Homo sapiens: one gene and its partner. The protein of the gene in region 1 interacts with the protein of each later gene in a biochemical or structural test. Each region holds a gene or a part of one and is shown on either strand. Other genes may lie near its edges. The genes, in order: ERCC6 and ERCC5.

What was found.
Region 2: the proteins of ERCC6 (region 1) and ERCC5 interact in far-western blotting, tested with the Homo sapiens proteins (one study listed by BioGRID).

The regions. Positions count from the first base shown.
Region 1 is NC_000010.11:49,528,866-49,538,380, forward strand, and holds part of ERCC6 (DNA excision repair protein ERCC-6), read right to left. Parts: intron 4,114-9,515; 5' UTR 4,100-4,113; coding exon 3,678-4,099; intron 1,976-3,677; coding exon 1,855-1,975; intron 1-1,854. UniProt on the Homo sapiens protein: Involved in repair of DNA damage following UV irradiation, acting either in the absence of ERCC6 or synergistically with ERCC6. Involved in the regulation of gene expression.
Region 2 is NC_000013.11:102,848,088-102,861,358, forward strand, and holds part of ERCC5 (DNA excision repair protein ERCC-5), read left to right. Parts: intron 1-4,030; coding exon 4,031-4,206; intron 4,207-5,669; coding exon 5,670-5,785; intron 5,786-6,200; coding exon 6,201-6,287; intron 6,288-7,964; coding exon 7,965-8,025; intron 8,026-10,187; coding exon 10,188-10,331; intron 10,332-13,271. Other genes in the region: BIVM-ERCC5 protein, read left to right, coding at 4,031-4,206, 5,670-5,785, 6,201-6,287, 7,965-8,025, 10,188-10,331. UniProt on the Homo sapiens protein: Single-stranded structure-specific DNA endonuclease involved in DNA excision repair. Makes the 3'incision in DNA nucleotide excision repair (NER).

The DNA of each region.
Region 1 (9,515 bases):
TGGGCAAATCCCTAAACTACTCTGTATTTCTGATTCAGAACCAATGGGCTATGGAAGTCAACAGGCCATAAGATAAGAAATAAAAACACAAATGTTCAATTGAAAAAGTTAGTCTCCTTTGATAACCTACTATATTTATGACTGTCCTTTTAGTATTCTACCTAATCAAAAAGCTTTAAGAAAAAAATATATCTTGCCATGCCTCTCCACCCTGGCCACGCCAGACTCCTCTTTGTCTTGTTCCCTTCCACATCACCAGAACTCAGATATGTGCCCTTGGGCTTCACTGGGGAGGCCCAATGAACTGGGCTTGTGGTACCTGGTTCATCTTTCCAAGGTCAAGAATGTTTCAACTTCAAATACGAGTGTGGGACAAGGGGAAATCCTGAACATAAATGCCACACTGCAATGACTTGCAATTTGTTTTTTCTCAGTTTTTCTCTCAGCAACATTCTGTCTAAAGCACTTTCCCTCTGAATAGTCTACCTCTAACCATCAAAGAGCTGCTAAAGACAAGAATGCATAATTAAGTTAGACTAGGACCTGAAGTGGTCTCAAGTTTGATGCTCTACACCCTTGAAATTCCAGCCCACTAGAAGCCCAAGAAGGTCTCTGCACATCAATTTCACATGCTCCCACAAGAGACCAGATGTCCTCTCTCTGATTTGGGAGGACCCACCTGCCTTGGGCAACTGCTAGCTTTGACCTTTGGGCTGCTATTCTGGAAGCAAGTGAGAGAAGATGGGGTAGTGCAGGTAACAGACTGGTGAGTGGAAAGTATAATAAAAGGAGGGCCACGTGAACTGAACCAACGCACAGCCCTGCCCCTGGAGAGCTTAAAGAAAAGATGCAAGGACTCTACTCACTGCAGTGAATCAACTGTAAGCACAAGTTGGGATGGCAGAACTGAAATGGTTACAGCTAGTCATTCCTATCTATTGCAATGTATTTTCACAAAGGGGTACATAAATCATAAAAAATGTTTCAGACCTCACAAAGCTGTACATAAATCCTTAAAAAAAGTTTCAAACTTCATAAAAATAATATCCTAAGTAACAAATATTCCCTACCCTTAAGTTTTCCAAAGCTAAGTACAACCCCAGTGTGGCTGGGTGCTGACTGTAACACCCAAGGTGGGAGGAAGGGCCAAGCTCTCGCAACTGTCAGCAAAGGTGTGTGAGGGTCAATGGCTGCACCACCAAGAAACAGAGTGGAGACAATTAGAGGAAGCAAGGGCTAAGCAGAAAAGAGTTCACAGGAGACCAGGAGACTGAGGCCAGTGTGACCCTAAGCCAGGCCAAAGAAATGGTGATGCAGGAAAACTAAGGAAGTGCGCCCAAGTGAGGCAAGCAACACCAAAAAGGAACTTTTCTCAAATACACAGATGGTCTCCAACTTATCATGGTCTGACTTGCAATTTTTCAACTTTGTGATGGGTTTATCAGGGCATAACCCCATTATAAACTGAGGAGCCTCTGGACTTAACTATGGTTTGACTTACAATATTTTGACTTTAAGATAGGTTTTTCAGTGTATTTAATGCATTTTTGACTAACAATATTTTCAATTTACGATGGGTTTGTCGGGATGTAACCCTGTTGTAAATCAAGGAGCAACTGTATACGTATGGATGTGTGTGTCTATGTATGTGTGTTTTTTTAAATGCAATAGAATGGGATGTTAAAGGAAAACAGCAGAAAGATTAAACATACAAAAGAAACCCAAAATTTCTCTATTGTAATTATAAGTATTTGCTTCACATCTTATAAGCACTTTTTAAAATACTTCCTAAATTAAGTGCCCCTAAATGATGACTTTTTCAAAAATGCAATACTGAATGTTATTCTGAATCACCTTATTATACTTCTGTCGTTTTACAGAATCTAGTTTCCTGTTGATGTCTCTGCTGGTGGCAGCTTGAGGGCTAAGCTGTTCAATAATTTTATTGATTTGCCTTAGGGATGTCGTACATGACCTGAAAAATAAGATAAATTGTCTATTTTGCACTCTGATAACATTTTTATAGCATAATATAAAGAGAAAAATGCTAAAAACATGTCCCTTTTACTTCTTATTAACTAAAAGATAAAGGAAACTAAACCAGAATACATACCCTTATTGGCCACAAATAAAACTTGTAGGATCATTAGAGGTTTAAGATGACTGCTAGTGTTTTCTTTTATCTAGCTGATTTAGATCAGCTCATTCCCATTTGTAAGCTGCTTCAGTCATTCTACAAGCATTATTTAAGTGCCTACTTTATTCAACACACTATGCTAGAACAATGTGCAATAAGTTGTCCTTTTACATGAAAAAATGCATACATGGGTTTTTTAAGCCCGTTACGGAAGCCTTCCAAAGTCTGGAAGCATCCTAAATATGCTTAAACATTTTTTTATATAAATCACACATCTGCGACAATATTTTTCTTCTACATAAATGGAAGATTCACTTACTACAGCACTAAACTTTGTGGTGCAAAGAAAACAAATCAATTTAAAATAAATTACTCCTAAAATAGACACCATAGAATTGTAGCTTCCAATTTTCAAAACACAAATTCAATCTTCTTGATGATTGTGTAATTTGCTGTTTGTATCCTCTGTGGATTACAGGATAAACAATGCGTATTACTGGCTGAGACACCACATGCCACCAGCCATCTAGCATCACTCTGCATGGAGACCCCACAACTCTCCTCTGTCACCTCTGGAGAAAGAGGACACATTTCCAAGATCAAATGTAAAAGTATCATTACAAAGAGTTGAGGTCCTCAACACTCAGACTATAACCATGAACGAGCACCTGCTCCTGAGGAGGCCAAAAGAACACACCAGGGAATGGTTAGCAGAAAACATGTCTTTGAAGTACCAACAACCACATTCATGACAGCGCCACACTCCACCCTCCCCAGCTATCCTCTGTGACACTGCTCCATCCTCCATCCCGTTCAGCCCTCGCCTTCTTTCTTGCTTACCTGACACTGCCCAGAACACTGCCCAACGGGGGCCAAGCAGCAATGATAAGTGAGCTCAACCCCTCCCACTTCCCCTCTCCTGTCCTCACCTCCTACCCTTGCTCAGGTCTACAGCCTCCCCTTCTTCCCCATTAACGTGCTATGCTCAAAACAGCTCAAGTCTTCTCCCTCTCTAAGACACAAATAAAATCTCCATTTCCAGAGTCAGAACAAGGATGGAAGAAAAGAAAACCGGGGAGTCTTTATTATTTCTAAAAATGCAAATCTGAAAAATTGCCCAAGGACTGAACACTAAGTTTGGGGACAGTAAGCTAGAAAGAAGCTACCGCACAGAGAAAAATGTGAAGGGGGCGCAATGTATTCCTGGCATCTCGAATAGGAAACACCTGAATTTAGGTGCACCTCTCCTGAGATCACTTTGTGCACATGCTGGTGAACAGCCCTTCTCTTCTGGACATTATGCATGCAACTGGCTTTCACGAGCTGGACAGAGACTCTAACTACCATGTACAATGCCACTCCTAAGGGGAAGGGCTGGGACTCAAAGATGAGGTTGAGGACTGCCCTTATTGACTCTGTCCTCCAAATAAAAGGTTCTACACATCTCCTAAACTTCTGGAATACTAGAGCTTTCCATTACCTGAATATCCCTGTCATGTTTTACCACCACTTTGAAAGGAAGAAGATGGGCTGCACTCACGTGAGGTCATCCAGGACCGACCGATACTCCTTCTCCACGTCAACGAGCTGGGAGGCACGGCTGGCCTCATGGATGGCATTGTCCACCTGCTGAAGCACTCCCTGTTCCAGCACGTCCTGGTCATAGACGTCCACACCCAAACCCTGCAGCTCAAGGGCCTGGGCGCTAGGCTCTACTGCCTGGATCTGATGTCGGTCGATGTGCAGCAGGGCTGGCCCTCTCCTCGGAGCTGCTGATGCGCACCCCACAGCAGAGGTGGACAGCCCGTCACCCACAGAACGAAAGGAGAGGTACTCCTCCACCTCCCCATCACCACCACTTTCTTGCTTGATTGCCATTTCTTCATTATTACTGACAGGTTGACTCTGTAAACAGTCTTGCTCCTGAGTTTGACTTGAGTGGGGGATTCCCTCATTTGGCATTCTCTACAGACTACCTAAAAGGAAAAAAATTTATAAGCCTTTTCGTTATATAGGATTCATTGTAGTTCTTAAATATTTTATAATTAGAGCAGACTGATTTCTCAAAAGATCAAGTAATAATCTTCCAACTACATAAATTCAAGTTTCCAAGTATTAATTTACTAAAAAGGGACAACGTATCTTCTTGAGTTCTGATAATAAATAAGAAAAATTAACCAGAAAAAGAAATGCAGTATCATCAACAAAGGACATTTAGGCAGCCAGCTAAGAAAGCCAGCCACCAAAATCCTGGGGTGATGGCCATGGAATATTCTTCAAAACAGCTGAAGTCATTTGGCTGCTGTTTTCCAAGTTAGCATCTTCATTTCATTATGACACAAATGATTTATAATATAGTGGCAAGATCAACTGTAATGCATAGGAACAGCGATGTTAGGAAAGAGCTTCTGTGTGAATCTGAGACTAGAAACTCCTAGGCTGAATACCTATCCAGTAAATAGGAGCTTTGAACAAATCAGAAGCTCAGAAGATTAATTAGGCCAGGCACGTGGCTCAGTCCTGTAATCCCAGCACTTTGGGAGGCCAAAGCGGGAGGATAGAGACCAGCCAGGGAAACACAGCGAGCTCAGGACTTCGAGACCAGCCTGGGAAAGATAATGAGACCTTGTCTCTACTAAAAATTTAAAACCTTAGCCAGGCCTGGTGATGTGCACCTATAGTCCCAGTTACTCAAGGGGCTGAGGCAGGAGGATCACTTGAGCCTGGGAGATGGAGGCTGCAGTGAGCCATGATTGCACAACTGCACTCTAGCCTGGGCAAAAGAGCAAGACCTTGTAAAATAAATTTAAAGTTTTTTTAAAAGATTAATTAAAATATTCTCAAAAATAGGCTGGGCACGATGGCTCACATCTGTAATCCCAACACTTTGGGAGGCTGAAGCGGGCAGATTACTTAAGGTCAGGTGTTTGAGACCAGCCTGGCAAACATGGTGAAACCCGATCTCTACTAAAAATACAATAATTGGCTGGGTATGATGGTGAGCACCTGTAATCCCAGCCACTCGGGAGGCTGAAGCAGGAGAATCACTTGAACCCAGGAGGCGGAGGTTGCAGTGAGATGAGATCTCACCACTGCATTCCAGCATAGGCAACAGAGTGAGACTCAATCTCAAAAAAAAAAAAAAAAAAAAACAAAAAAAAAACTCCATTTTAATACACAGTATAATTTCTCACCCATCAGGTTAGCAAGAATTCAAAGCCTGATAGATAAATCCAATACAGACAAGGAGAAGGATCCCCCCTCACATAGTGCTGCTGAGAATATAAATTAGTAAAGCCCCTTGTAGGGACAACTTAGCAATATCTATTAAATTAAAGGCACATGACCTTTGTCAAGCAATTCTAGGTATTTATTCCAGAGAACTAGTCACACACAGGTGCAAGAATGTTTAGTGCAGCACATTTTTAATAGTTTAATGTAACTACTAAGTATATTCTGTATACTGATATAAAAGCCATGTTAAGTGAAAAAATTCATGGTATGAACACACTTATGCTGAAAAAAGTATCTATCCTGCACACAGAATGATCTGGCAGGATACAAACTAAGCCTGCAAATCAGGATGGGGAAGAGAAAGCACAGGGAAAAATAAGGGGGAATGTTCACATTGTACTCCACATACTCAGGACCTGCTGCTTTAAGGAGAATATATTCACTATATTACCTATACAACTATCACATCTAATAAATATATTAAAAAGCAAAACGATAACCAAAAATCAGTCTTGCTTTTTGTTTAACTGTGAATAAGATTTCTTTGAGCACTGTAACTTTTCTGTTAAATGACAAGTTCCCCCAGTGGGCCCCACTCATCCCTTATTAAGTAAAATAAGCCCAGCAATAAAGCACCGGGATACAAAGAATTCAGCATCATCTACACCCGAGTGGCTATCCACTGGAGCAGCAGCATGTCAGTTAACAACAGAGCAGGGCAGGTCAGCTAGCCCGGGACACGGACAAGAGGTCACACGAGCATCGAGCGAACTATATATGGTGTCTGGGGCCCAAGAAATATCACGGAGGAACTGAGATTTGAACACATGGGCCATGCATGGTCTGATATATAGGAGGTGCTCAATATCTGCTGAAAGGAAGTGAGGTTCAGAGCTAAGTCTAAAATAATAAAAAGTTTGGTCTGGACAAATGAGTCACCAGTGAATTCAGTCACAAAAATGAGACTCTCAAAAAGGAAGCAGATAGGAAGCAGGACTGGCAAGCAGCTTACATGTAATCAGTACCATTTGCAGCATGCAGTCAGAAATGCAAATCTGAGCTCAAGGGAAAGTCTGGGTGACATGTGGACACATCAGCAGAGTGAGCAGTTCCAGGGTTCCCAAGGCTCTGACAGGTACCTAAGGTCATTTTGGAGGGTACGAGGAGGCTAACATTGGAAAGGTTAAAAAGTGAACAACACAGTGAGAAAGTTCCTTCTTTTGGGGCCTGCTGATTATTTTCAAGAGGAAGGCTCAGCTCACCTCACTTTCCAACAGAGAGAGCAGGATTCCAGCTCAGAGTGTCTGTACTAGCTGGCAGTTAACAATTCTGTTTTCATTTTTCTTATTTGTACACACATGAGGATTTCTTTTTAAGAAAAAAGGATGCCAATTCAACCAAAAATATTAAGTAACCATTTTTCTATTTCTGTAAAATAATATCAAAAAGCAATAGTATTGTAGTGTAAAGACAAGGTTAAAAATAAAGAAGTTTGGGGAAAACTTCTAATAATAAAAAAGGAGGAAGAGCGTCCAGTGAATGAGAAAAGGCTGAGTGAATTTGGATACCAATGGGTCACCATTTACCTTGGTAAAAGAAGTTTCAGGCCAGGCTTGGTGGCTCACACCTGTAATCCCAGCACTTTGGGAGGCCAAGGCGGGTGGATCACCTGAGTTCGTGACCAGCCTGACCCAACATGGTGAAACCCCATCTCTACTAAAATACAAAAATTAGCCAGGCGTGGTGGTGCATGCCTGTAATCCCAGCTACTCGGGAGGCTGAGGCACGAGAATCGCTTGAACCCAGGAGGCAGAGGTTGCAGTGAGCTGAGATCACACCGCAGAACTCCAGCCTGGGCAACAAGAGTGAAACTCTGTCTCGAAAAAATAAAAAAGTTTCAGTGGAGCGATAGGGCCAAAAACCAGACTGTAGTGGTTGAAATGTAGTTGGTGTGTAAGGAGTGGATGAGGAAATGGAGGCCACAAGAGAGTGGCCTGTCCTTTAAAGAGCTTGCCTCTGGCAGGGAGACAGCTACAGTGATAAAGTAATAATGGATTTGTTGGGGGTAGGGAGAGAACTAGGGCAAGAAAAACTAGAGCACGTAATGGCTGGAGGGAGACAGAGGAGATAACCCAGAAAGGTGTACCAAAAGAGACAGCAAAAGTGGAAGGTCGCAAGCAGAAATGAACAGGAGGCACAACACATCTTTCTCGGACTCTGGCAGAAGGAGGATTCCTGATAGATCTAAATTTGCAGGTGGAAAGGAGGGAAGCTGAAGTGGATTACAGACAAAATATCCCACAAAGCAGCAAGTTGGGCAGTTCCTGAGTCAGGAGACAAAGTTGGCACTGGGGCTAAAGACTAAGAGTCTGGAATAAATGTCCTGTACAAGAGAAAAGGGAGTTGACAGGGAACAAACACTGATGATTGCTGTGGAGGACCTACCTGAGGATCTCCCCAGCCCTGCAAAGCCATAGACTGCTAACAATCTCCAGGGCTGAACAATCTCCTCCTTCAGTAGTCCTGGGGGAAATGTCACTATTGAGGGTTTTCAGAGCAGAAATGGTAGCGCAAAAGAGTCACGGGGTTGAAGATGCTGAGAAGAGTAGCTGAAGCAACTGACTTCAGGGTCCAAGCTGGGTAGGTTTAAAAAAACAAAAACAAACAAACAAAAAAACAGAAGGGGCCTGGAAATGGGAGAAAGGGTTCAAGAAGTCACTTAGTATCTGGCAATGGCCAGAAAACCAAGTCTTCTGGAAGTGAGAGTTGGAAACCAGAAGGCTCTTATCAGGTTAAAGAATTTCAGAAGTGAAATAAATCATACATTTGCCGGGAGCGGTGGCTCATGCCTGTAATCCCAGCACTTTGGGAGGCCGAGGCGGGAGGATCACGAGGTCAGAAGTTCGAGACCAGCCTGACCAACATAGTGAAACCCCGTCTCTACTAAAAATGCAAAAATTAGCTGGGCATGGAGGCGCGCGCCTGTAATCCCAGCTACTCGAGAGGCTGGGGCAGGAGAATCGCTTGAACCCAGGAGGCGGAGGCCGCAGTGAGCGAGATCGCACCACTGCACTCCAGCCTGGGCGACAGGGCAAGACTCCGTCTCAAAAAAAAAAAAAAAAAGAAAGAAAGAAATCATACATTTAACAAATAGTTACTGAGAGTTAATTACACCAGGCAATGTACTAGGTTAACTAATTCCTGTCCCCAAAGAGCTTAGAGTCTCATGGGAAAAACAGACATTTAAAAACTATATATATATATATACACATACACACACACACACACACACACACACAAATATAATTGTGGTGACTGCTGTTAAGAGGAAAGTACAAGGCTTTCTGACAAAATGAGAGAAACCAAATTGAAATTGTGGAGGTAGATGTGGGGTCAAGGAGGCCTCTCTGATAAAGTGACATCTGATAAGTCAGTCAGGTCGAAAGTAAAGTGAACGTCTTGCAAGGAAACAACGTGTGAAATTTTTTTTTTTTTTGAGACGGAATTTCGCTCCGGTTGCCCAGGCTGGAGTGCAACCTCCGCCAGGCTCCGCCAGGCTCACTGCAACCTCCGCCTTCCGGGTTCAAGCGATTCTCCTGCCTTGGCCTCCCGATTAGCTGGGATTACAGGCATATGCCATCATGCCCGGCTAATTTTTCGTATTTAGTAAAGACAGGGTTTCACCACGTTGGTAAGGCTGGTCTCGAACTCCTGACCTCGGGTGATCCACCCACCTCGGCCTCCCAACAACGTGCGTAACTTTTAAGACTAGAAAGAGCTGATGCACTTGTGAAAATGCAAGAAGGCTGGAACACCGAATTTTTGACTTTATTTTTAACTTTGAGTTAAGAAGAGCAGAGAAGGGCTCCGTTCATGGCCTAAGTCTTGCAGAGTATCTTCTAAGGCTTAATCATCTGGGACACTAGTATCTTCACCGTCCTCCCCCATCACTGGGGCTCCCGCAGCCAGGGGCAAGCTGGGTCTCATTTGGAGGGTTGGTCGGACACAGGCACAGTTCTGAGAGGGGACAGGCAAGGGCCAAATCACACAAGGCCTGGGAAAACACGAGCATGGATTCCACTCCCAGTGCAATGGAATGACTCTGAAAACTGTTAAGTAGGCTGATGATGGCATGACCTACTTT
Region 2 (13,271 bases), on another chromosome or scaffold:
GGTCAAGGCTGCAATGAGCCGTGTTCATGTCTGTCTCTGAATAAATAAATAAAAAGGACTGTGAAAGACATTCTAGTCATGACAACCTCATATATTTATAATAAACTCGTTTATGTCAAAGGAGTATATCTGATTACTTGTTCTACAATCGGTTTTGCTTTATTTCATTTTCACGGGAATTCAGACACCTGAAATTATTTAGATTTTATTGTATTGTTTGTTAATGACAAACTTACCCGTTATTATACTAGTTTCATAATTTACTCTTGTATCTCTATACTAAATTGTTTGGTCTTTAAACCATCTATATAGCTTAGTGTCTTATTTATACAGTCTAAATGTCTGTGTCAAATAATGCAGAAGTAAGTTAAACTTTTGTCTCTTATAGATTTTAATGTTTGTAATATGCGTTTAAGTGTATTAGCAAGATATTACCATCTCTTTAGGCTATGTATACTAATGGAGATTTTTAAGTCACCTAACTAAAGAACTAAAGAAACTTATTTTTTGTATTGAAATGTTATTGGTCTTTGGGTCTTATACCGAAAGTGATTTTTGGCTTTGCTGCAGATTTTAACTTTTCTGTCCGCAGAAATTTAATTTTGCGTATATAAACTTACTGAAATTAGACAAGTCAAATTATACAAATATTTTCAGATTGTCTCATTTTTCATATTTCTTGTCTAACAATTTATGTGAATATTTTCAGGTCGTCTAATTTTACATATTTCATCTCTAAGAATTCAAGCCAAAATTCTCAACCCTAGCTGAGAATTGGCATTACCTGTAGTTAATTGAAAAATAAAAAATAAAAGAAGTCCTACCTCAGTCTCTATGATTTAGAATTTTAGGCCCATGGGGTTTAATAATCCGTATGTTTCAGAAGCTTCATATCCTATTCTAATGGATAGCAGGGATGAGAGCCACTGATCTGAAACTAGATTTCCTCACTGAAGTTAAAGTTTAAAGTAGTGGGCCAAGTAGAAACTAATTTAATCCTATGTAATAGTGAGCTTCATGGCTTTTCCAGACTATACTTGTAGCAAGCAGAAACATCGATCTAATACAAGACAGATGCACATCAACACCAAGTTCTACCTCTGAGATGTATCTTTTATCCGATCTCTTCTCGTGGTCTCCACCACTACTGTCTGCGTTAACTTGGGCTATTGTAACTCATTTTAGAACTGGTTTCCTTATAATCTGTTCTTCACATGTTCATCAAAGTTATCCTTAAATCATGTTCTAGAAACTTCCCAGTGGCCGTATCACCTCCTGCCATTCCTTTTGTCCTGCTGCACTGGCTTCCTGGAGATAGGGACCGTCTCTGTTTTGTTCATGGCTGAATTGTTTGGTGTATATCCCTAGGGTCTTGGATATGCCTGGCCCATGGTATTGCTAAATATTATAGAAATAAGCATAGCAGTAGCTTGCTTTCCACTAGGTATTTTGTTACATAGTGTTTTGTAAATTAATTGTTGATGGACCTACATTTTTTTTTATGTTAGTAAAAGTTAGGCAGTGTACATTCATTTAAATACTAAACTGTTCAACTTATTTAATAGCAGATATTTATTGTGTATAAGAGTCCCTGTGAAAGGGAGTGCAGTGCACAAATTGCCCGGGCAAGCCATGGAGCACACAGGCTGGGTTTTTTCCCTGCTAGATTATAAACTCCATAGGGCCAATACTGTGTTTTGTTCAGTGCACTGGATATGCCAGTGCATAGAAAAAATGCTGCCACATAATAAAAACAGAAATAACGTGATAGGTGGCCCCTTCAATGTTCTTTTCCTATGTTAGAAATTTACCTGCAAATATTAGCATCAGTCCAGGTTTCTCTCTGTTTTTTTTTTCTTTTTGTTTTTTTTTGAGACAGAGTCTCCCTCTGTTACGCAGGCTCGAGTGCAGTGGCGTGATCTTGGCTCACTGCAACCTTCGCCTCCCAGGTTCAATCGATTCTCCTGCCTCAGCCTTATAGGCACACGCCACCATGCCTGGCTAATTTTTGTATTTTTAGTAGAGACAGGATTTCACCATTTTGGCCAGGATGGTCTCGATCTCCTGACCTCAGGTGGTCTGCCCGCCTTGGCCTCCCAAAGTGCTGGGATTACAAGTGTGAGCTACCGCACTCGGCCTCAATATATTTTTTAAATAGGAATGTATACAAGGAGGATGTCTTCATCTAGACTGAGGAGGGGACCCCTGGACTGAGACCTTAGAGTAGGAGAGAACTAGGCGGAGAGAGGGAGAAACTGTTTCAGGCAGAGGAAGCAGCATGTGAGAAGAACCTGGAGGCAGGAAGGAGCTTAGTGATTTCTGGGTTTGAGGAAAGCCCAGTAGCAGGAAGTGAGCAGAGGCCAGATCATTCAAGGCTTCCTAGACCAGGAGAAGAAGTTTTAGATAGTATCTTGAAGGCAGTGGGAAGCTTTGGAGGGTTTTCACCAAAGATACGTTGGTGAAATCTAGTATATACCTTCAAGATACATTAGAAGATAGAATTGATAGACCTGGTAATAGCTATAGGTGGTGATGCCCAGCATTCTGGCTCAGGTGAATGGCAGGGACATTCACTGAGATGGGGGCATGAGCAGCTGAGTGGAGAAGACATGGAGTTCAGTTTTGATCATGTTAAGTTTGAAATGTCTATGAGGTATGGGGTAGAGACGTCATCTGGGCTCTCTGTTCTGGGGTCAGGAGCGTGCTCTGGGCCAGACATATACATGGAGTCAGGGCGTGGTGTATGTGGAGGGGAGTGGAGGTTGATAGTTCAGACAGGAGGAAAGAAGAGGGCCTGAGAAAGATCACTGATGAAGTGAATACTTTAACAGTGTTACAGGAGCTGGCAAAGAGTCTGAGAGCAGGAAAACCAGCAGAGCGCGGTGTCACTCTTTCTTTTGGACAAATATAACATTTTTTGAGAAGCACTTTTTAGAAAAGTTTAAAAATATAAGAAAACTTCAAGATGAAAATATAAGTTATCTTTAGTCTCAGCAGACATAATATCTACTTTAATATTTTGGTATGTGAACTAGTTTTTTATATTTAACATATATACTGTATCAGAAAATGGAGTTATACTTTATATGGTTTTATAGCCTGTTTTACTATCTTTAATAATATTTAATGACTATCTTCCTTATCACACATGCTCCTGCAACTTCCATTTTTAAGGGCTTTTTGGTATTCCAGCAAATAGGTCTGCCATAATTAGTTTTTCTTTTTTGAGACGGAGTCTTGCTCTGTCACCAGGCTGGAGTGCAGTGGCGCGATCTCGGCTCACTGCAACCTCTGCCTCCTGGGTTCAAGCGATTCTCCTGCCTCAGCCTCCTGAGTAGCTGGGACTACAGGTGCGCACCACCATGCCCAGCCAATTTTTGTATTTTTAGTAGAGATGGGGTTTCACCATGTTGGCCAGGATGGTCTCGATCTCTTGATCTCGTGATCCACCTGCCTCGGCCTCCCAAAGTGCTGGGATTACAGGTGTGAGCCACCGCGCCCGGCCTATGATTAGTTTTTTAAAAAGACCTGCTGGAAAACTTTTAAGTTGATTTTTATATTTTCATTATTATAAACAAGCATTCTGTAAATAACTCTCATTATATATCCATGATGATTTTCTGAGGATCAATGTCTGGAAGTGGTAAAATAGACTGCAAAGTTTTAAAAAGTTTTTTTCACTATGAATTGTCAAATTGTCCTCCAGAAAATTTGTGCTAATTCATGAAAATTCTTTAGCAATCACTTATTTTTTTTTAAAGAAGCAATTCTTTGCAATGAGACTTCTTAAAAGGATATGTCTGTCTTTGTATGATTTTAAAATGCAGTATGTGAATAGGGGTAACAAGAGTTCAACTAAAAGTTAACTGACTTTAGGTAGATCCCATGAGAGCTAAATGTTTTTCAATTTTAAATGAATAGTGATAAGTATTTAGTGTTCAACGTTTGGATAATATCAGTTATTAGGAAATTGAAGTTGTGAGGATGAAGAGAAAAATCCCGGAGTTTTTTCCATTAACAATTCTCCCAGATATTAGCATTTGGTTAAACCAAGCACTTAAAGGAGTCCGGGATCGCCATGGGAACTCAATAGAAAATCCTCATCTTCTCACTTTGTTTCATCGGCTCTGCAAACTCTTATTTTTTCGAATTCGTCCTATTTTTGTGTTTGATGGGGATGCTCCACTATTGAAGAAACAGACTTTGGTAAGTGTCGTATAGTTTTTAGTAAGTGTCAAATAATTTTTTTCTTTCTGCATTCTTAGAAAAATTCACATAAAATTTTTGTTTTCTCTTTAGAATTTTAGAAACAGACTTATTTTGACACATACTTAATTACATCTACTTTTTTATCTTGAACAATTAATTTTTCTTTTAAAAAGTTTTATGAGAGTTCATCATGGGTACAATGATAAAATTTAACTTTTAAATAAAACTAACTACTAAAAACCTTGCTGTTGAGAGTTTTCCCTTCAGAGGATCTTGTTAGGTGTTTTATATTTATTTCAAGGATGCGGCCATCACTCAGAACACTGTGGAAACCCTCTTTTGGGAAGTGCCTCCCTGAATCTGAGATCAAGTATCCTCCGTGATAGCAAGCCTTCTTTTAAGGGGAATTGGATTTTAGGAGTAAGCAATGTTATGTGGTGCCAAGTGGTGACTAAAGTGGATTATCTAGGAAGGAAATTGACCATGATATAGAAGAGTCAGAATGAGTTGCTGCTTTATTGTTCTGGAAGTAGTTTTAAAAAATGTTTTTGGAAGGCCGGGGGCAGGAGGATTGCTTGAGCCCAAGTCCAGCCTGGGCAACACAGGGAGACCCCATCTCTAAAAAAATGACATAAAATAATGTTTAAACAGTCCAAATGACAGCACCCATTTGGATATATGACTTTTATTTGTTGAAAATACCAAAGTAATGAAATGATGACTTTGTAATCATACCAGATACTCTCTAAATGAGGATATAGGATAAAAGTAAGGATATAGGATAAAAATAAAAAGCATTTATAAATGCTGGGGGACCTTTGTTGCCTCAGTAAGAGTGTCTAGTCTTGAATGTTGCAGTTTTCAGTTACCCAAGGCATACTGTAAATCAGGTACTTTGTGGAAGGATTAGAAAGGAAAAGAGAATATCTTGGTTATTTTTATCCGATATTCAGCCATAAGCACAGGGACTATCCATTTGTCACTACTTGAACATTTCTTACAAGATATTTCTATACATTTTAGAATTTCTCATGATATATAATCTTGAATATTGAAGGGCAGAATTACATGTAAGTAATGCATGTTTATAAAAAGCAATATTAGAAATTGTTTTTGGTGTCACTGTGACATTTTATAGAATAAATAAATAATTTCTTTTGGGAAGCATTTAAGCTTTCCACTTCTTGGGCATATTAAAAGACATTTAAAAGAAACTGAAAGTAAATTAAGTTTCCCAAATATATTGTGTAGTAGCCCATTAAGTAATAGATGGAAACTCTGGGTGTCCTTTACGTAGCAGCAACCTGAAGATATACACTGATATGGCAATTAGGAGGAAATGCTAAAGCAGCCATAGTCTGAAAACTCAGACAAACCAAATTCTCTGGAAAATAAATCACAGCAATGTTTCTAGTGGTCTAATATCCTGAAGTGAGATCTTACATCCTTTCTTCTCATAGGTGAAGAGAAGGCAGAGAAAGGACTTAGCGTCCAGTGACTCCAGGAAAACGACAGAGAAGCTTCTGAAAACATTTTTGAAAAGACAAGCCATCAAAACTGCCTTCAGAAGCAAAAGGCAAGAGGAAAATTATAGTCGTGTTAGAGATGAAGTTTTAAAAAAGTGATTTTTGTCTTGATTTCCTGCGATTCTCTTTCCCTATCTAATTTTGACTCTCAACAGAAAATAGAGAGTGAAATGAGACAAGTAGGCTGCCATTTTGACCTGGTAATTTGGAGTTGTGGCAATTCTCCGTTCTGTGAGAATCAACTTTGCTAATGAGAAAAAAAAGCTGTCGTGTTGCGTCATGTACACTTTTTACTTTGATTATGGTCTTCTTGACTCTAGGTGAGCAGCCCCGCCAAGGTTCCTTCCTTTCTCTCGGCTGCATTTATTTTCCACAGCAGTGGCCTGAGAGCAGCCAGGTCAGGTCCCTGTTCACCATCCTGAGCAGGGTCTGCATAATCTGTTTAAAGATTTGTGTACTTTCCAGAGATGAAGCACTACCCAGTCTTACCCAAGTTCGAAGAGAAAACGACCTCTATGTTTTGCCTCCTTTACAAGAGGAAGAAAAACACAGGTAAATGTTTAACTATTTAAGAATATTATTTTAGTCATTGCTACATTCAGACACATTTAAACCTTGATGTGTTATCTACATGATAAGGCATGTGAACATTTCTTAATGCATCTGAAATAGGCATGCTCTATACCTTTCAGAATATTTTTCAAAGACTAAATTTTTTATTTACTATTCTTTGTGTTTTGGTGATTCATGATTCTTATTCCTCTTCATTCTAAAGAACTTCTGCCAGGGCTGTGGATTCTAAATTCTCCAAGGCATGAATTTTAGTTTTGCTTACACTTTGCTTACACATGCTGTCTCTAGCTGCTTTTCAATCCAGTATGGTCTCTCTCACCATGATGCTAAAATACCACAACCCATGACATTCTTGTTGCTAAATCTAGCAGACGCTTTGCACGTCTTAGTGTGCTCGACTTCTCTGCACTAAACACCATGCCACACTGCCCCGCTCCCCCGGCATCTCTCTGGCGCTTTCTGCTCAGCCTCTCTGTGGACTCCTCTTCCTCTGTCTCTCTCTTAATGGTTGGTGGTTTCTGTGTTTGAAGTGAAGGTGGAGAACCGGAAGCTTGGCAGTTTGCCTTTGTCCCCTGTCCTTCCCTCCACCTCTTCCTTTCCCAGGAGTTCCCAAGAGACAACTTAGCTTTTGTATCAGCTCAGTTCTATTTGTCTCCATTGCTACCACTGTCATTTTTTCTCCAGGTTACATTATTAGCTTTTAAACTTCTTTCTGTCTTTGTCTTTGATCATACCCTTTTTGTAATAGTTCCTCCCACCAAGCCCAATCTCTGTTTTGTGTTATAGTCTGTTTAAAATCCAAATCTGATATTGTCATTTCCTTACTTAAAACACTTTCTAGCTTCTCCTTCTCATTTTTTTCTTTCTTTTTTTTTTGAGATGGAGTCTCTGTTGCCCAGACTGGAGTGCAGTGGCACAATCTCAGCTCACTGCAACCCCTGCCTCCTGGGTTTAAGCGATTCTCCTGCCTCAGCCTCCGGAGTAGCTGGGATTACAGGCACGTGCCACCACACCTGGCTAATTTTTTGTATTTTTAGTAGAGACGAGGTTTCACCATGTTGTCCAGGCTGGTCTCGAACTCCTGACCTCAAGTGATCCACCTGCCTCGGCCTCCCAAAGTGCTGGGATTGCAGGCGTGAGCCACCACACGCAGCTTAGCTTCTCATTTCTTTAGGATAAAACTTTAACTCCTTAATTACACTTTCCAGTCTTATCCCTGCCTTTCTTCACATCATCCACAGGCAGGCTTTCTTTTCCTTGTTTCTATATGGTCATACAACTTAGTTCTTTTGCCTGGAACACTCTTCTCCATGAACCTTCCCGCTCCCTACAACTACACTCATTAATTCGTGGCTAACTCCAACCAGTGTAATTGCAGGAGATCCTGGAAAGCTTTTGTGACTCCTAAATTGGGTGAGGTGACTCCCTATTGCATCTCTAGTGACCTGCCCTTCCCTTGTGGTGGAAGTTATTAGATCCCACTCTAATTGCTTACTTACACGTGTCCCCCACCAGACCATGAGACCAGTAGTGGCACAGATCTTGCTGTTTTATTCACCACTGTAGCCCGTATAACGAGCAGAGCCTTGCATACAAGTATTTTTGTAAGGGGTCCTTAAAAATCATAGATATCGTAAAAGTATGTTTGACTTTCAGTTCAGAAGAGGAAGATGAAAAAGAATGGCAAGAAAGAATGAATCAAAAACAAGCATTACAGGTATTTAGATCATTTTTGAATTCAGAATGTATTCTGTTATTTGAAATGAATGACATGAAAATGAATATTAATGAGGTATATCAAACTGTGAAAGTTCCTGATAAAAAGTAAAGACAGATGGCTTTTTGGTTGTGCATATATATGTGTACATGTATGTATTTAAAACACACTCACCTACACACGTGTATATATATATATATGGAATTTGCCATTATGCACATCTATATATTCAAAACAAGCTATTTTTCTTTTACAACCAACCAACCAATAGTAATATGTGCTTACATAGAAAATATAGAAAACATATCATTCATAAATAACTTGTAATAACAGTTTGATATATTTTCATCCATTCTTTGCCTGCCCCATATAGTTGAATATCTGTGTGTGTATTTGTATATATGTATCAAATGTGCATGTGTACATATATATGTGTACACATATGTGTGTATGTTCTAGTTATCTGTCGCTGTGTAACTTAGTGGTTAAAACATCATTTGTTATCGTCATCTGTCTGGGTTCCAGGGGTAGATGAGCTCAGACAGGCAGTTCTCTCTGGGGTCTCTTGTGTAGATGCAGCCAGTCTGTAGCTGGGGCTGGAGTGATTAACGAGGTTTCCTTGCTGCCATGGGCGGTGGTTGATGCTGGCTGTCAGCCAGTCTTCCATGCGGCCAGCACCAGAGCACCTACTTGTGGCCTCTCCACGTGGCCTGGGCATTTTCCCAGCATGATGACTGTATTCCCAGTGTGGGCATCCCAAGAGAAAGTTCTAAGCAGAAGCCCTGTTGCCTTTCTGACCTAGCTTTGGAAGTTGTGCAGCATCCTTCCCACTACATCCTGTTCCTCAGAAGCTAGTTACTGCCCTATGGAAGGGGCAGAGAGTTAGACAAGAAGAATGTCCCACACATATTTTCATGAATAACATTTTTACAAATTGAGATTATGCTGTATATATACATTTTTTTCATAAACATTTTTCAAGTTTCTTAGTGTCACAGATAGCATTTTTTGATTCCCAAATTCACTGTTTCTTGTTTGTTCATATGGTTTTGTTCTATCAGGTAGAAACTTTTGAGCTAAAACCTCGAGATCCTTCAGGTTGCGGAGGTGCTGTGCTATTAATGCAGCTAGTGAGAGCAATCTTAGTTAAGACCATGGGCCTCGTGGTCAAAAAGACCTGCGTTTCAGTCCAGGCTCCACTGTTCACTAGCTGTGTGATCTTACACAGATTAAATTCTCCAAGGCTTTATTTTTTTTTGTAAAACGAAATTGATATCAATGCCTTCCTGATGGGGGTGATGGGAGCATTAGTGAGGGAAAGCACAGGAAATGCTGAGCGCAGTGACAGGTCTGTCCTACGTGTTTGCTGGTTGGTACGTACACATGTAACATACAGACATGCAGGACATCAGGTTGTATTAGCTTATCTTTTTTACTAATGAAGGATTTTAAAGTACTTTTGGTAATGAGTTAAAGTTGAGAAAAGTTTTACACTTTTCCATGTCTTCTGTGAATTTCTTTTAATTTCATTTCTTATGTTATAAGCAAAATAAAACTAACTTAATTATGGGAATGATATATATTGCTTGAATTCCTAAGGCACATTCTGTCTTGGGTTCTTGCATTTTCTGTTCTCTCAGCCTGAAATGCTCTATCCTCAGTGAGGCTCTTTGATATCTTCCAAGTCCCTGCTCACACATCCTCTTTTTAGTGGGGTCTTCTTTATCTATCAAATAGATCTTTTTTTCCACGTTCTGTTCATGTAATCACTCTCATATCAGATAAATCTGCTTTATTTTACCATTATCTTGTTCATTTATTTATTTATTTATTGTCTTCTCTCCTCTGCTCCTAAGAGCAGGGACCTTATCTGGCACCTTATCCGATCTCACAGTACCTTAGCACCTAGAACAGTGCCTGGTGCCTTAGAGGTACCTGCTAAGTATTTTTTTCTTTTGAATGAATTAAAGAGTGAATGGCTACATTCCCTAATTTGCCTACTCACTTTGTTGCCTGTCACAGATTATATGCAACTGTGTTTAGCCAATTGTTGATTATGTAGAACTGTGTTTATTATATAAACATAATACATATCCTTAATGTTGAATAGAACTAAGTGTATGAAATGTAAATTTCATGGTGCTGTGATTTTATCTTTACAGGAAGAGTTCTTTCATAATCCTCAAGCGATAGATATTGAGTCTGAGGACTTCAGCAGCCTGCCCCCTGAAGTAAAGCATGAAATCTTGACTGATATGAAAGAGTTCACCAAGCGCAGAAGAACATTATTTGAAGCAATGCCAGAGGTGAAATATGCAACAGTACATTCATGCTTAGAATTAAGAACTTCAGCAAAACTTTTTATTAGAAAGAAGAGAAAATTGATAAGCAATACTTACACGATATCTCAGTTAACAGTAAACAGCATTTCTACATCTCAGATTCTAAGAAGCATCGTATATTTATACGTTTGAGCCTATAGACATTTACTCTAAGAAGTTTTTCTTGACTTTTGACCCGAGACTAGGTCTTTTTTCCTGGTCTTTGTTCTCACAGCACCCTGTAATATCACTTCATAGTTCTTAGTTCCAAAACACGCTTATCTTGCTCACCTCTGTATTTTCAGTGTCTAGCTCAGTATTTTTCACATGGTATGTGTCCAGTAGATGCTTACTGACTCAATTCTTAGGTTAGGTCATAAAAGTTATTGTAACCTATAATATACATTGTCTATAAAAACTAATAGTCATATAGAATCTAATCACAATGGAAAAATAAGTTCTAAATTGAAATTCCAGGTATATCTTCCTCTGCTGCAGCCCTAGAGATGCCATTGGCTCTCCACATTCCCTTGCCCTCTTCCTGGACAGTGCGAATGGGGCTTCTTCACCTTGGAACATCTTGTAGCTTGGCAGGCCCAGAAAGCTAGAGTGGAGGTGGTATGTGCAGTTGGGTGCTAGCAAATGTGTCTCCTGATCATGCTGCCATTGATACTTAATTCATGTTACTATTGATGACTCCCTGTCTTAGTTGCCAGTGAGTGAGTTCTTTTTCTCTTTCTGTTGCTGCTACCTGTTATTTCTACCGTAGTTCTCCATTCACCCACTATAGGACAGAATCGAAATTTTGCAGCATCATCGACCTTAGTGCATAGATGGAGTGTTTTTTTATTTTCTACAATTTTTGAATATTGCTTAAATTGATAGCAGAAATATGAAAAAGGAAGGGTAAATTTCTTTTCTCATCACTCCCTGTTTTTTCCACAAAGAATGTGCAGTAGCACACACTAAGGTGCACAGAAGTGACATTCTTGGGTCTTTGGATATACAAAGGACAGAAGTAAATTGATTTTTATTTCAGGAGAAAAATCCAGGCTCAGTCTGTCTATCAGGCATTTTATTTCTTGAGTATGAAAGGATCTCTGGCTGGCAGTTGAGGAAGTAGAATTTTGGTTGTGTAAACAATAACAGGAAGAAATGGGAGAAAGAGAGACAGTCCCTAATGATTTACTGTTCTTTATTTTCTTTCTGCAACCATGAAGTCTCTGGAAGTGGTGGACTGTAGGGTGGTGTGGAGTAGCAGCTTACTGGATCTGTAATTTTGATAGAGATGTTCTAAGTCATCCATGTTGGGCCTTTGTGTGATCTGTATGTCGTGCAAATGTAATATTGATAATAGTAGTGATGGTAGGTAATAATAGCAGTAGTAATAATCATAATACCATAGTTCCACTTTACTCACGGTTTGCAGTTTTCAGTGACCTGTGGTAAACTGTGGTCTGAAAATATTAAATGGAAACTTTCAGAAATAAACAATTCATAAGTTTTAAGTTGCACACCATTCTGAGTAGAGTGATGAAATCTCACACCCTCCTGCTCCATCTTGCCTGGAACGTGAATCCTCCCTTTGTCTAGCATCTCCGTGCTGTAGATGCTTCCTGCCTGTTAATCACTGAGTAGCTGTCGCGGTGATCAGATCAACTGTCGCGATATTGCAGTGCTTCTCCTCAAGTCACTCTTATTTGACTTAATGATGGCACAACAGTGCAAGAGTATGATGCTGGCAATTTGAATATGCCAAAGAGAAGCTGTAAAGTGCCTCCTTTAAATGAAAAGGTGAAAGTTCTTGAATTAATAAGGAAAGAAAAAAATCGTATTCTGGCTGAGGTTGCTTAGATCTGCATAAAAATGACTTTTCTATCTGTGATATTGTGAAGAAGCGAAAAGAAATTGGTGCTAGTTTTGCTGCCGTACCATAAACTGCAAAAGTCATGACCTCAGCGTGTGATAAGTGCTCAGTTAGGATGGAAAAGCCATTACATTTTGGGGTGGAAGACATGAAGAGAAACATGTTCTGATTGATGACAATCAGGTTTGGTACTTCTGCAGTTTCAGGCATCCTCTGGGGGTCTTGGAACATACCCCAAGGATGAGGGGGCTGTCTACTATGTTAATAGAATCAATTGTAGTAAATTGACATGCTTTTGATCCCAGATCTACCACTTATTAGCCCTGTGACTCTAGGGAGGTTACCTAACCTATTTAAGTCCCAATTTCTTCATTTATAAAATGGAGGTGATATCTGTTTCATAGGATGATTGTGAGAATAAAATGAGGTATTATATGTAAAAGCACTTAGAAAAATGCCCTCCATGGGAAATGCCTTATAATGTTAAGTATTACTGTTAATAACTGTGATTACTGTGATTTATTGTGTCTTTTATGGGATAAGGTTGTGCAGGACACTTCACTTGCATATTTACCTACATTCTAGAAGATTGTTAAGCCATAATCAGATGTCATAGTGACTGCTATGCATTACATGCTCAATACATGTTTATTGAATAATGATTAAATCATAAACAGTATTCATGATTTTTTTTTTTTTTTTTTTGAGGGGAAGTCTCGCTCTTGTCCCTCAGGCTGGAGTGCAATGGCACAATCTCGGCTCACTGCAACCTCTGCCTCCCCGGTTCAAGTGATTCTCCTGCCTCAGTCTCCTGGGTAGCTGGGATTACAGGTGCCTGCCATCACACCCGGCTAATTTTTGTATTTTTAGTAGAGACAGGGTTTCACCACGTTGGCCAGGCTGGTCTCGAACTCCTGACCTCCGGTGGTCCACCCATCTCGGCCTCCCAAAGTGCTAGGATTACAGGCATGAGCCACCGCACCTGGCCATAGTATTCATGATTTTTTTTTGCCCAACTCTTTCGAAGATTATTTTTTTAAAAGGAAGCTGTAGTTTTT